4 linked regions of the Homo sapiens genome follow. The protein of the gene in region 4 purifies or fractionates together with the protein of the main gene of each other region. This does not show direct contact. Each region holds a gene or a part of one and is shown on either strand. Other genes may lie near its edges.

Region 1 (3,230 bases), on a different chromosome or scaffold from region 4:
CAGTGGCTCACGCCTGTAATCACAGCACTTTGGGGGGCTGAGGCGGGTGGATTGCTTGAGCTCAGGAGTTCCAGACCAGCTTGGCCAATATGGTGAAACCCTGTCTCTACTAAAAATACAAAAATTAGCCAGGCATGGTGGCACATGCTTGTAATCCCAGCTACTTGGGAGGCTGAGGCAGGAGAATCACCTGAACCCAGGAGGCAGAGGTTGCAATGAGCCGAGATAGCGCCACTGCACTCCAGCCTGGCAACAGAGTGAGTGAGACTCTGTCTCCAAAGAAAAAAAAGAAAAAAAAAAAAAGAGAAAGTGACATATTGTCAGACATGCTTTAAAAAAACACACCCCCCTTTTTCACTCCCCTTTTTATCAGTACTGTTAATGTAAGCTTTTATGCCTGGCTTTGCATTTGCCCTGCAATAAAATAAGATTTTATAAAGAGACCTAGGCTAAAACTTGAATTCTCATGCTTCTGTGGAGCAGAAAAGTGGCAGGGAATATTTCTTTATACAGTTCACTTTTAATCATTCATCCAAAAAACAGTTTCTTCCCATTTAAAATGCCTATTCATACATTTGAGTTATTCCCTTTGGATTATCGGAAGCCAGATTACAAAATTTAGGAAATGCTACCAAGTCCTCTTTGAAGCAACAGGCACATAAATAATTTAAAACTCTGGAAACAATTTTTAGAACCTTAATGTGAAAAATAGACTTTTTTTTAATGCATACTCATTTCTGTCAAAGGCTAGGCTAAAAGCTTTTTGAGGGTCACACTGCGTATGCCCCTTCCTCATATGATGGGTAGTTTTGTGGACACAGTAAAGAGTTAACCCAGCTTCCTCGGGGACACCAGGTCACTCTTTCTGGACACCTGCCATCAGTTGCCATGCCTAACAAACCCTTCCCTGGAAGCAGTTAGAACATACCTTGGGAGTCAGATCCATCTTGGGAGTCCAGACTCATACTACCTTTTTGTCCTTGGAAGTCACCAAATGAAAGTAATTGTGCCCGATGATTGAGCAGATATTCATATTGTCACACTCGTTCCTTTTGTATTAACTTTTATTTACCTGTTAATGAAATCATCAAAATACAATGAGTAGGCACCTTCTATGTACATCTGTCCTAGTGCTTTTGAGTGTTAATCTAAACTCATACATCAACAAACATTCTAGCCGGACAAGTAGGTGGCTACTCAGTCCATTAAGAAACTTAATTACTAGTTTCTAGTAGCCTTAAAGTCTCATTTAACATTTAACAAATCAAAGAGCATGTCAGAGGCTGGACATCAATGGCAGATGATGCCAAAGTCATAGGGTTTTGCCTTTGTGTACAGTGCATAGGCTCCAAAGCATGACCTGCACGTCTTGATACTCAGGAATTTTTGGAAAAAGAAAATCACACTCTTTTGTCCACTTTTAAAAAGTGAAAAGTAGAGCCTTCATTACCCTAGTAGAGCTTAACCTAATACAATACAATGAACCAAACAGGAAGAAAGGCATCTTCTACAAACCCTATTCAAAAGTCATTGGCCAGCTCTTTAAAAAGTTTATTAATAATTTAAATATTTAAATAACTTGTAGGTTTATCCATTAGTCTCTTCTATTAGGCTCTACACCGCCTCTTTTGGGACGGGGTTAGAAGTTCCAGTTTTACATGCTGTTCCTCCCAGCAAGGCCCCATTTCTTCAAGTGAGTACAGGATTGTTGATAGCTCCGTTTACAAAGTGGAAGTGATGACAGCTCCCATTGATGTGGACAGTTCTCTAAACAACGCGAGGTGACTTCAGCTTATGTGGCTCGTTGCCTGACCTCTTCTTTTAAGGTATCTCTTTCTAATTTTGATCATCCATTTTATACTCAGTTTGGCAAACTCTGCTGCTTTAAATAATGCCAAGAAGGCGCCACAGAGAAGAGCAATTGTGTTCCAAGGATTGGCAGTGACTATCTGTGAAGCAAACAGAAACAAACAGGATTACTGGTTTGCTTCAGTCTTGATTCTTTTTTTTTTTTTTTTTTTGAGATGGAGTTTCGCTCTTGTCACCCAGGCTTGTGTGCGTGGCGCAATCTCGGCTCAGTGCAAGCTCCGCTTCCTGGGTTCAAGCAATTCTCCTGCCTCAGCCTCCCGAGTAGCTGGGATTACAGGAACCTGCCACCACACCTGGCTAATTTTTTGTATGTTTAGTAGTGTTATTATCAAGAGCCCTTCCCAAATTATTGGGACTATAAGAAAAATACCTGGGTTCTGAAACTGTCATAACTCTATATACTTCATTCAGACTATACTTTTAATGTCCATAGCTCAGTTTGAGGAGAAAAATACTGACTCCTCCCTATAATAAAGTGATTCTGAAAGAAAGCTGTTTTTCAAAAAAGCTCTGCACAAATAAGATAGGCAATATTTAATTTTGTGGCCTAATCCAACAATAAGTGACCTTGCTTTGAGATGAATTTCCCTAAAACTATACCCAGTCCATAAGAAGGTGAGCTCCTCTTGTTCCCATCTCATAGTTACCATAGTTTCAAGTGTTTCCTCATTTCTAGTCCAATGGCTGTCTTTCCTCCCAAACTCAGAGGAGGATTCCTGCCTCCAGTCCTCTGCTCTTTTCCCCATCTACGATGCTTTCCTCCTGTCTAGGTTTACTCATCCTTCAAAGTCTCAGAGCTTTCCCTGACCACTAAGCTAAAACCCTTTCTGGACTTCAGCAGAGCTATTTATCCTATGAATGCCCTTCACAGTTCCTTATGGTCTGGAATCAATAATTTAAAACAATAGGATTGTTCTCTCACTAACTCTTGAAGGCAGAGTTGTAACTCTTTAAGGCAGAGTTCTTATCTTGGATTTCTGACTTCCACAACCTGGTAAGAATACTTTTTTTTTTTTTTTTTTTTTGAGATGGAGTCTCACTGTCGCCAGGCTGGAGTGCAGTGGCGCGATCTCAGTTCACTGCAACCTCCGCCTCCCGGGTTCAATCTATTCTCCTGCCTCAGCCTCCCGAGTAGCTGAGACTACAGGCACATGCCACCACGGCCGGCTAATTTTTTGTATTTTTAGTAGAGACGGGGTTTCACCATGTTGGCCAGGATGGTCTCGATCTTATGACCTCGTGATCCGCCTGCCTCAGCCTCCCAAATAAAATACTTCTAAGCTCAATTTAGCAGGGTGACCTTAGTATGCATTTCATTGTTCACATATGAAAATGGTGATACCACCACTTGACTGCTGTGA
Region 2 (3,810 bases), on a different chromosome or scaffold from region 4:
TTCCATGTCCCACGTTCCATTCCCAAACCAAAAACTCCTGATAGGCAGGGGACAAAACACCAGGGTTTCTCAACCATGCTCTGACATTTTGTTTCTTTCTTTTCTTTCTTTCTTCTTCTTCTTCCTCTTCTTCTTCTTCTTCTTCTTCTTCTTCTTCTTCTTCTTCTTCTCCTCCTCCTCCTTCTTCTTTTTCTTCTTTTCTTTTTTTTTTTCTCCTATCTCCCTTTCCTGGTAAACACTGACATTTTGGACGGGATAATTCTTTGCTGTGGGGACTTTCCTGTGTGTTGTGGGATGTTTAGCAACATCTCTAGCCTCTACCCACCAGAGGCCAGTAGCACGTCCCCCCAGTTAAAACAATCCAAAACGACTCCAGATGTTGCAAAATGTCTACTGGGGTGCAAAATCACCCCCATCTGAGAAGCACTGTGCTACTCTGAGAGTCTCCCATCCTTCCTCTGCCCTCCCCAGTTGCAGACAGAGGCTAGGCAGGGGCAGAGGCCATGAACAGCAAGTTTTACTTAGGCCTGGCAGGATGGAGGCCTCTGAGGGAGGCCAGGATTTCAAACTGTTAACACGATGGAGGGAGGGCATGCCCGCGAACCCACTGATGTGATCTCACTCTAGTGGGGTGAGTTTTCCAGAACATGCATTCCCGGATTCCCCATCAGTCATAGGAGGGCCTGGAATAGCTTCTGGGGCAGATGCCCCCGCTTTCCCGGAACAGGCAGAAGGGGGTGTGGGTGTGGTGGGAGTGGCGTAGGGGATTCTTTCCTTCTGTAGATATTTTCCTGGCATTGTTGACAGCCATGTGATTGGTTGAGGGCTGGAGGGGAGGAACTTTCCAGCTGTGGGTGCCTGGGTTCCCGGGAGGCCATCTGACACTGGGATTGTGGGGGATCTGGGTTTTTGGGGATTTTCTTGTTTTTCATTATCTCACCAACCAGAAGCAGGGATGTCTGGGTTTTAGGGTCTGGAGACTGTCTTTGGAGCTGGGACTAAGGGGCTGACTGGTTCCCCTCCAAGGGATGTGGAAGTTGTGAGTGCATACCCCTTAGAGCTGGAGGCTGGGAGGTTTTCAGCGTCTTCACAAGCCACTTTTTGCTTGGAGGTGGTGGGACCTGAGGGAAGACGAGGGTGGGAAGCCTACGGGAGGGGCCTGGGAGGGACAGAGGGAGGGAGGATGGGTGGTGGAAGGCACTGGGCGGGGTAGGATTCCTGTCTTTATCCCAAAACTCACTCCACCAGGAGGCTCAGAACACCCAGAAGCAGGAAAGCTCCGAAGATGGAGAGGAGCAGAATCTTGGCTTCCCAAAGATCCTGACTTCCTGCAGGGAACCCAGGAGGCAGTGAATGATTCTGGGACCCACACGCACCGACTTGGGAGCCCAAGGGCTCAGGGATCTGGGCAAGGTGGGGCGGGGCCAAGATGGGCGTGAGGACCTGGGAAGCAGCGCTTTCGGGGCCAGCAGGACACCTCCGTCCCCTTGCAGGTGGAGCAGTTGTACAGCGTGGTGCTGCCCCCTGCAGGAGACAGCAGAGGCAACGCTGGGGAGGGGAGGCCGGGCCTCCACCCTGCCTGGTACCCAGCTTCCTCCTGCAGCTGCCAGGCCCTCCTCTGACACCCTGCAGGCCCCAGGTCCTTGCTACCCCTTTCCTTTCCTACTCACGGCAGGCGGGGGGACAGAGAGCTGAAATGAAAGACAAGGAAGGGGTGGGGGTGTGAATGGATGAGCTGCTCACCACACATTCCTTTGGTTAAGACCCTAGGCTCCCCTTGAGGCCCATCCCGCATCGGTACCTTCCCTGGTGTACTCAGGGAGCTTGGTCTTTCGAAGCCAACTCCAATATGAAGGGAGTGAGGAGACAGCCTCTTTGATTTCTGGGGAGGCAGACAGCAGCTCCGTTTCCCTGGGCCTCGACGGGGCCAGTTCCCCCTCTCTTCACGCAGCCCCTCCCTGATCAGCCCTCCTGTCTCTACCCCTCCACCCTTCCCTGCCCACCCCAACCCCTGTCACCCGTCCCTCTCCTTGGTATCCTCCCAAGCCCCTAGGTCACTCTTTCCCCTTGACCTCACCCATGACCCTCAGGACTCTGTGAGTCTTCTCTGTGACTTTGTTCATGGACACCTCATCTGTGGAGATGGGCAAGGACCAGCGATTCCCTCATCAGCCCAGGTTCTGGGGTCTCTCCTGACTTTCCCAGATATGGAGCTCTCTCAGAGGGAAAGGCCAGCATGTCCAGAAAGGGCCACAGATGGAGGGCACAGCTGGAAGGTCACATGCCACCCTCTGGGGGTAGGGGGGTGAGTGCTTGCTGGGCCCATCCCTGGATGTCTGGTCCTACCTAAGGCAAAGGCCGAGAAGTCTGGGGAGGCCCCACATTCCTTCTGCCTGGCCTCCATCTGGCTGCAGAGCCGAGCCAGGCGGCCTGACAAGTCGTGGGCTGGGAGGCGACAGAAGACACAAGCCTGGGCGGCTGCCAGGAAAACCCCGCCTAGTGCCAGCCTCCACATGAGGACCACTGGGGGATGGGGCGGCGCTGCCCCAGCTGAGCCGAGGAATGCTCTGCAGCCCTGGCTCCAGCCCTTGCCTGGAGGTTCTAGAATGTTCCAGAACAATGAACAATGGCACTGCCCATCCTCAGCTGGGGTAAAGCTGGGGCTCAAGGAACTGGGGTCCAGAAGGCATCTCCAGCAGGCGATGGGCAGAGAAAGCAGGGCTTCTGTTGTGAGGGGACAGCACCCCCAACCTGGCCCTCAACAGCCTTCACAAGTTTGTGGTTCCAAAAGCAGTTTTATTTTTCTTCTTGTAAATCATGACCAGTGAGAAATAATGTGTGCCCCACCCCCCACCAGTGAAGAAGCTGTGCGTGAGTATCCCACCCGCTCTGGGACCCAGAAATCCCATCCCTTCCCATCTCCTCCCCCACTGTCCCAAACTCTTCGTCTCCTCTCTCTGCCCTGGGCGGCCTTGGGCCTTCCCCAGCTATCTCCTAGCAACAGGTCCATGGTTGCCTCAGCAACCAAGAGTTCCATACAGGCCTCAGAGGCCCAGCTAAGCCCAGTGACTTCTCTTACCTCTCACCAGGAAGATCCCAGTGACTCAAACCCCAACAGGCCCCTCCTGGCTACGTGGTGATGCATATACATGCGTGCACATAAACACACACACACACACACACACACACACCCTGTGATTAAACTACTAATTGTCAACCACCTCACAGGTATACCACAGACACACCCTGTGCCAGAAGAGTCGCTAGGCAACCCCAAACAGGCCTGGACATGCGGACATCACAGACACTGTAGTCAGCAACACAGATATGAACCAGGATGCCAGGGACCTATACATCAGTCAGCCACACGGGCTGATATGCACGCACACATGAAGAAAGGCCAGGACCCACAGATACTACCCTCTTCCCCCTGGCCAGCCCTGCCATCAGTATGGGATTCTTCCAGATGAGGGATGCTCCAGCCCCATTGCCATGGGGACTGTCCTAGCTCCCATACATCAACCTAGGGTGGGTTGTGGCCTTTCTGCCTCCCTCAGTAGATGGCTTGGAACATAGCAAAGAACTCCTCTTCCGATGTTCCAGAGTGTTCTGGCCTCTCATTGGTCAGGCCAGGCCAGGCCACCCAGCTTCAGGAGTAGAAGCCATGGTCCAAGAGACCGCATTGGGAAAATGCAAAGTCCTCCCTTTTCCCCAGACCTCAATATCCTTCCAGGGTTTTGCTAGGTCTAGTCTGGGTAAAGAGATGTTCCCCCCTTTTCCAAGCCCTTAAACACTGAGCTCCAAATCAAG
Region 3 (3,500 bases), on a different chromosome or scaffold from region 4:
ATTGCCTAGCATATACTAACTGCTTAGTAAAAGTTTTAAGACTTCCCCTCCATTAACTCAAAACATCCATAATCAATTCTCAGAAGTACCTCCTTTTCAACAACATAAGCAGCCACAAAAATACCAATAGCCAGGCATTCTGCTAAGAGTTTATATATATAATTTCTTATAATTCCTAAAACAACCCTTTGAGTACAGGAAAGCACAAAAAGTTAACAAAATTAAGTGGCAGAGCAAGGAAAACACACCCTAAAGAGTGTTGACTCCAGAGCTTACCTTTCTAAATACTGATTCACAGTAGCTCTTGTATTAGTTAACTGATAAAACATCTGCTCCTGGGCATTGGCTACACTGTCCACTTTCTGAAAACTCATCAAGCTACACACTTAGTATTTGTGTACTTTAGTGCACTGCATGTGTGATAAAGGGAAGCCTCGGGAAAATGTTAAAATCACTTACATTAAAAACATATACACACTGGGCACAGTGGCTCACGCCTGTAATTCTAGCACTTTGGGAGGCCAAGGCAGGTGGATTACCTGAGGTCAGGAGCTCGAGACCAGCCTGACTAACATGGTGAAACCCTGTCTGTACTAAAAATACAAAAATTAGCTGGGCGTAGTGGCATGTGCCTGTAATCCCAGCTACTCGGGAGGCTGAGGCAGGAGAATTGCTTGAACCCAGGAGGCAGAGGCTGCAGTGAGCTGAGATCGCGCCATTGCACTCCAGCCTCGGTGACAGAATGAGACTCCATCTCAAAAAAAAAAAAAAAAACAATGACAACAACAACACATACACATTCCTGAATCCAGTCAAAGGAAAGTTTTGGTTCAGCTCAAATTTAACATGAACTTGGTGGCTATAATTGTTTTTCTGTCTTACATCTGTCTCTCTTAGGTCTATATATCCTCCTACAGTATTACATACTTATGTCTAAAGGTAAAGATAATAAAAGGGAAAAAGAACTCTAATAGATGTTCCATAGTAACAAACTTGAAATTATCTGAGGATAGACCACTGAAGTCCAGGAGGCACACTAATTATATATGTTTCCAATGAATAAATTACAGCTGTACAGTATTTTAAAACATTAAGGAAGCCATTTATAAATGCTCTTGTAGTTGCCTATGTTTAAAGAAGACAAGAGGAAATGGAACCATTTCAGTTGTCCATTTGTTTGCTATCATTAATATAATTCTCTCCCAACATATAATACTCTACTATCAGTAACACAATTGGGTATAATCAATAGCAATGCTAGTAGAACTATTCCATAAAGAAAATGAGTCCAAGACTTACCTTCCAAATAACTGAGGGGCCTGAGGCAGGATCCTTAACTCAGAAATGGGATTAATACCCTTACAGAAGGCCTCTTGGAGGATTAAACAAAATAATGTACATACAGTTTTTGGCATAGTACCTGAGATTTAGTAAACATCTACTCAATAACTATTGACAATTATTACTCTGAAATCTTAAATTAATGTAAACAATCTACCAGCTTAATGTAATACAGTAATAAAGTATTAGAGAAGGAAAAGTCCACCCCAAAGAACTCTAAAAACCAAAATACAATTCCCCAGGTCAACTCCATCCAAGAAGTATAAAGGTCATAATAAAATGAACCCACTGGATTCCTGTGGGTCCTTAACCCATGGAGATAAGAAAACCTAGCTTAACATTGTTAAAATAGAACTGGGCAACTCTGGCCGGGCGTGGTAGCTCATGCCTGTAATCCCAGCACTTTGAGAGGCCAAGGCGGGTGAATCGCTTGAGCTCAGGAGCTAAAGACCAGCTGGGCAACAAAGCAAGACCTCTGTCTCTACAAAAAATACAAAAATTAGCCGGGCATGGTGGCTCGTGCCTGTGGTCCCAGTCACACAGGAGGATGAGGTGGGAGGATGGCTTGAGCCTGGGAGGCATAGGGGGCAGTGAGCCAAGATCGCACTACTGCCCTCTAGCCTGCATAACAAAACCAGACTGTCTAAAAAAAAAAAAAGAATTGAGCAACTTTGCTCCTCCCTTTAAAAACCTCCAGTGGTTCCTCATCTTCTAATTTACTGACAAAAAGGCCGAACTATTAATACTTACATGGCCAGGCGCGGTGGTTCACGCCTGTAATCCCAGCGCTTTGGAAGGCCGAGGCGGGGAGATCATTTGGGGTCAGTCCAAGACCAGACTGGCCAACATGGTGAAACCCCATCTCTATTAATAATACAAAAATTAGCTGGGTGTGGTGGCACAAGCCTGTAAGCTCAGCTACTCACGAGGCTGAGGCAGGAGAATCACATGAACCCAGGAGGCAGAGGTTGCAGGGAGTGGAGATCATGCCACTGCATTCCAGCCTGGGTGACATAGCAAGACTCCGTCTCAGAAAAAAAAAATGACAATGGCATGCAAGTCCTTCCAAGAATTGAACTCAGTTACCTTCCCAGCTCTCTCCATCAAACTGCTTTCTATTTTCCATTTTGCAAACAGACATGCTTTGACTTCTCATGGCTTTCATGGCTCTTGGCCTTCCCCCCTCTGGAATGGCATCTGCTCCCTCAGTCCTCCACACTGTACTGCAGTTGTCACTGGGTCCTTAACTCCTCTTTTGGACTCTAAGCAAAAGATAACGTACTATTCATTTATAGTTGTAACCTAATATAAAACTATCCATACTGAAAAGTCAATAATGTCTGAAATTTAGATGGTAAAATGCTAACTTACATTTACCCACATCTTCATCTATTTTACTTTTACTGTCATAAAAAATTAAGAATAGTTGACGTAATTGATTCAGTCACTGGCCTATTACCACCCTGACAAGGATGGAATAAGAAATAGGGCTTGTCATTTCCAACCCAAGCTATTTGCAATGGAAAAATATATCCATGCTTTCAAGATTCGTATTTATTCCACAGTGGAAGAGAAAATGTAATGTTCTTTCCTTTATTTATTTATTTTTTTGAGATGGAGTCTTGCTCTGTTGCCCAGGCTGGAGGGCAGGGACGAAATCTTGGCTCACTGCAAGCTCCGCCTTGAGGGTTCAAGTGATTCTCCTGCCTCAGCCTCCCAAGTAGCTGGGACTATAGGCGCCTGCCACCACGCCCAGCTAATTTTTTTATTTTTTTATTTTTAGTACAGATGAGGTTTCACCGTGTTAGCCAGGGTGGTCTCGATCTCCTGACCTTGTGATCCACCCGCCTCGGCCTCCCAAAGTGCTGGGATTACAGGCAAAAGCTACCACACCCGGCCGAAAATGTAATGTTATTTCTAATTCTCGTGAGATACTGGTATAAAACCATAGAATAGCGATTAAAAGTCCCAGCAAGACTGACAAAACACCATGTGTTCCACCAGAAAAATCCACACATTAAAACAAAGGTGCCGGGCACGGTGGCTCACGCCTATAATCCCAACACTTTGGGAGGCCAAGGTGGGCAGATCACCTGAGGTCGGCAGTTCGAGACCAGCATGGAGAAACCCCGTCTCTACTAGAAATACAAAAGTACCTG
Region 4 (3,500 bases):
CATTCATTCATTCGTTCATTCAAGACTATAATTTAAGGTAGTTTTAAGTTCACGGTAAAATTTAGAGGGAAGTGCAAAGATATCCCATATACCCACTTCCCCCACACATACACAGCCTCCCCAATTGGCACGATTACCCACCAGAGCAGTACATTTGTTACAATTGATGAACTTAGGCTGACACATCATAATCACCCAGCATCCATAGTTTACAGTAGGGTTCACTCTTGGTGTGGTACATTCTGTGGGCTTGGACAAATGTATAACATGTATCCACCATTATAGTCTTATACAGAGTAGATTTATTGCCCTCAAAATCTTCTGTGCTTCACCTCTTCACACCTGTTCACCCCTCCCTCCACCCTCCTCCCTAACCCCTGGCTACCATTTCTTTTTACTATCGCCATAGTTTTGCCCTTTCCAGAATGTCATATAGTTGAATCATACATGTGTAGTCTTTTCAGATTGGCTTCTTTCACGTAGTCATATGCATTTAAGTGCCCTTCATGTCTTTTCATGACCTGCTAGCTCATTTCTTTTTAGCATGGCTAATGTGCCATTGTCTGGATATATCACAGTTCATTTATACATTTATCTACTGAAGGACATCTTTATTGCTTCCAAGTTTTGGCAAGTATGAATAAAGCTGCTATAAACTTTTGTGGACAGGCTTTTGTGTGAACATAAAGGATTTGAAAACTCCTTTGGGTAAATACCAAGGAGTGTGATTGCTAGATTGTATGATGTTTCGTTTTGTTAGAAACAACCAGACTGTTCTGAGGTGGCTATTTTGCATTCCCACCAGAAATGAATGAGGCTCCTGTTGCTCCACATCACATCCTCACCAGCATTTGGTATTATTGGTGTTCTGGATTTTGGCCATTCTGTTAGGTGTGCAGTGGTATCTTATTGTTTGAATTTGCATTTCCCTGATTACACATGTTGTGGAGCATATTTTCATGTGCTTATTTGCTATCTGTATGTCTTCTTTGGTGAATTGGCTGTGAAGGTCTTGGCTTATTTTTCAGTCAGGTTGTTCATTTTCTTATTGTTGAGTTTTAAGAGTTCTTTGTGTATTTTGGCTAATGGTCCTTTATCAGATAAGCTTTTTGCAAATATTTTGCTCCATTCTTTTGGTTGCTTTTCATTCTCTTGACAGTGTCTTTTGCAGAGCAGACATTTTTGATGAAGTCTAGCTTACTAATTCTTTCTTTCATGGATCTTGCTTTTAGTGTCCTATCTAAAAAGTTAACACCAAACCTACGGTCACCTAGATTTTATCCTCTGTCATTTTCTAGGTGTTTTATACTTTTGCATTTAGGTCTGTGAGCTATTTTGAGTTAATTTTTGTGAAGTGTGAATGTGTCTAGATTCTTTTCTTGCTTGCTTTCTTGCTTCCTTGCTTCTTTTCTTTTTTTTTTTTTGTTTCCAGTTGTTCCAGCACCATTTGTTAAAAACGCTATTTCTTGCATTGTATTGCCTTTGCCGCTTGTCAAAGATCAATTGACTATATTTGTGTAGGTCTGTTTCTGGGCTCTTTCTCTTTGTCTGTTCGTTTGCGCATACCACACTGTTTGATTACTCTAGCTCTATTTTCTTGAAGTTGGGTAGTGTCAGTCCTCCTATTTTGTTCTCCTCCTTCAATACTGTGTTGGCTATTCTGGGTCTTTTTCTCCTCATATGAACTTTTGATTCACCTTGAATAACTTGCTGGGATTTTCATTGAGATTGCGTTAAATCTTTAGGTCAAGTATTGAGTCTTCCTACCCATGAACATGGAATATCTCCTCATTTATTTAGTTCTTCCTTGATTTCTTTCAAGAGTTTTGTGGTTTTTCTCATATAGATCTTATACATATTTTGTTAGATTTATACCTATTTCGTTTTTTGCAGTGTTAATATATATAGTAATTGTGTTCTTAATTTCATGTTTGACGCTGATATATAGGAAAGTGATCAACTTTTGTATTAATCTGAAATCTTGCTATAATTGTTTGTTAGTCCCAGGAGTTTTTTTTCATTGTGGTTCTTTCGGTTTTTCTACATAGAGAGTCAAGTCATCTGTGAACTAAGACAGTTTTCTTTCTTTCTTCCCAGTCTTCATACCTTTTATTTCCTTTTTGTTTGTTTGTTTTATTGCATTAGTTAGGACTTGCAGTACTATGTTGAAAAGGAGTGGTAAGAAAAGGGACAATCTTGCCTCGTTCCTGATCTTAGTAGATGTTTTCATGTTCTCACCATTAAGTATGATGTTAACTACAGATACTCTTTATCAAGTTGAAGAAGTTCCTCTCTATTTCTAGTTTACTGAGAGTTTCTACCATAAATGGTGTTGGATTTTGTCAAATGCTTTTGCTTTATCTAATTATGCAATCATGTGATCTTTCTTCTTTAGCCTGTTTCTTTTTTTTTTTTTGAGACGGAGTTTTACTCTTGTTGCCCAGGCTGGAGTGCAGTGGTGCCATCTCAGCTCACTACAACCTCCACCTTACGGGTTCAAGTGATTCTCCTGCCTCAGCCTCCCAAGTAGGTGAGATTACAGGCATGCAACAGCATGCCCAGCTAATTTTGTATTTTTAGTAGAGACGGAGTTTCACCGTGTTGATCAGGCTGGTCTTGAACTCCTGACCTCAGGTGATCCACCCTCCCTCCTCGGCCTCCCAAAGTGCTGGGATTACAGGCATGAGCCATTGTGCCCAGCCTAGTCTGTTGAAGTGATGGATTACATTAATTGATTTTTGAATGTGGAACCGGCCCTACCTACCTGGCATAAATCTCACTTGATTGTGGTGTATAATTCTTTTTATACATTTTGCATATGATTTTCTAATATTTTGTTGAGGTTTTTTGCATCTATGCTCATGAGATATTTATTGGTTTGTAGTTTGCTTTTCTTGTCAAGACTTCGTCTGCTTTGGGTATTAGGGTGATGCTGACTTCATAGCATGAGTTAGGAAGCATTCCCTTTGCTTCTGTCTTCTGAAAGATCCTATGTAGAGTTGGTATAATTTCTTCTGTAAGTGCTTGGTAGACTTCATTAGTGAACCCTCTGGGCCTGGTGCTTTCTGTTTTGAAAAATTATTATTGATGCAATTTCTTCAATAGATATAGGCCTGTTCTTGTGAATTTTGGCAAATTATGTCTTTGAAAGAACTGGTCTGTTTATCTAAGTTATCAAATTTGTGGGCATAGAGTTGTTTGTAGTATCCCTTTATTATCCTATTTTTGTCCATGAGGTAGGTCTAAAGTGGTAGCCTCTCTTTTATTTGTTGTTTTTCTGAATTTGTGTTTCCTCTTCTTTCATCTTAGTTAGTCCAAGGCTTATTGATTGTGTTTATCTTTTGAACTAACTAGCTTTTGGTTTCATTGTTTTATTTCTGTTTTAGTTTTTATTATTTCTTTTCTTCTGATTACTTTGGATTTAATTTGCTCTTTTTCTAGTTTCCTGAGGTGGAAGCTTAGATTATTAATTTTATTTTATTTTTATTTATTTATTTTTT

Evidence for each region.
Region 1: the proteins of KIDINS220 (region 4) and PACC1 purify together in Homo sapiens (co-immunoprecipitation; one large-scale study listed by IntAct). This does not show direct contact.
Region 2: the proteins of KIDINS220 (region 4) and TMEM95 purify together in Homo sapiens (co-immunoprecipitation; one large-scale study listed by IntAct). This does not show direct contact.
Region 3: the proteins of KIDINS220 (region 4) and ACBD3 purify together in Homo sapiens (pull-down; one large-scale study listed by IntAct). This does not show direct contact.

What each region holds. Positions count from the first base shown.
Region 1 is NC_000001.11:212,363,428-212,366,657, forward strand, and holds the end of PACC1 (proton-activated chloride channel), read right to left. Parts: intron 1,950-3,230; coding exon 1,788-1,949; 3' UTR 501-1,787; downstream 1-500. UniProt on the Homo sapiens protein: Chloride channel gated by pH that facilitates the entry of chloride ions into cells upon exposure to extracellular acidic pH. Involved in acidosis-induced cell death by mediating chloride influx and subsequent cell swelling.
Region 2 is NC_000017.11:7,353,910-7,357,719, reverse strand, and holds TMEM95 (sperm-egg fusion protein TMEM95 isoform 3 precursor), read right to left. Parts: upstream 2,565-3,810; 5' UTR 2,516-2,564; coding exon 2,347-2,515; intron 2,135-2,346; coding exon 2,078-2,134; intron 1,883-2,077; coding exon 1,802-1,882; intron 1,692-1,801; coding exon 1,671-1,691; intron 1,549-1,670; coding exon of another isoform or gene 1,525-1,548; coding exon 1,444-1,524; intron 1,329-1,443; coding exon 1,241-1,328; intron 1,122-1,240; coding exon 1,088-1,121; coding exon of another isoform or gene 999-1,087; 3' UTR 885-998; coding exon of another isoform or gene 619-884; 3' UTR 501-618; downstream 1-500. UniProt on the Homo sapiens protein: Sperm protein required for fusion of sperm with the egg membrane during fertilization.
Region 3 is NC_000001.11:226,180,242-226,183,741, forward strand, and holds part of ACBD3 (Golgi resident protein GCP60), read right to left. Parts: intron 1-3,500. UniProt on the Homo sapiens protein: Involved in the maintenance of Golgi structure by interacting with giantin, affecting protein transport between the endoplasmic reticulum and Golgi. Involved in hormone-induced steroid biosynthesis in testicular Leydig cells.
Region 4 is NC_000002.12:8,782,114-8,785,613, reverse strand, and holds part of KIDINS220 (kinase D-interacting substrate of 220 kDa), read left to right. Parts: intron 1-3,500. UniProt on the Homo sapiens protein: Promotes a prolonged MAP-kinase signaling by neurotrophins through activation of a Rap1-dependent mechanism. Provides a docking site for the CRKL-C3G complex, resulting in Rap1-dependent sustained ERK activation.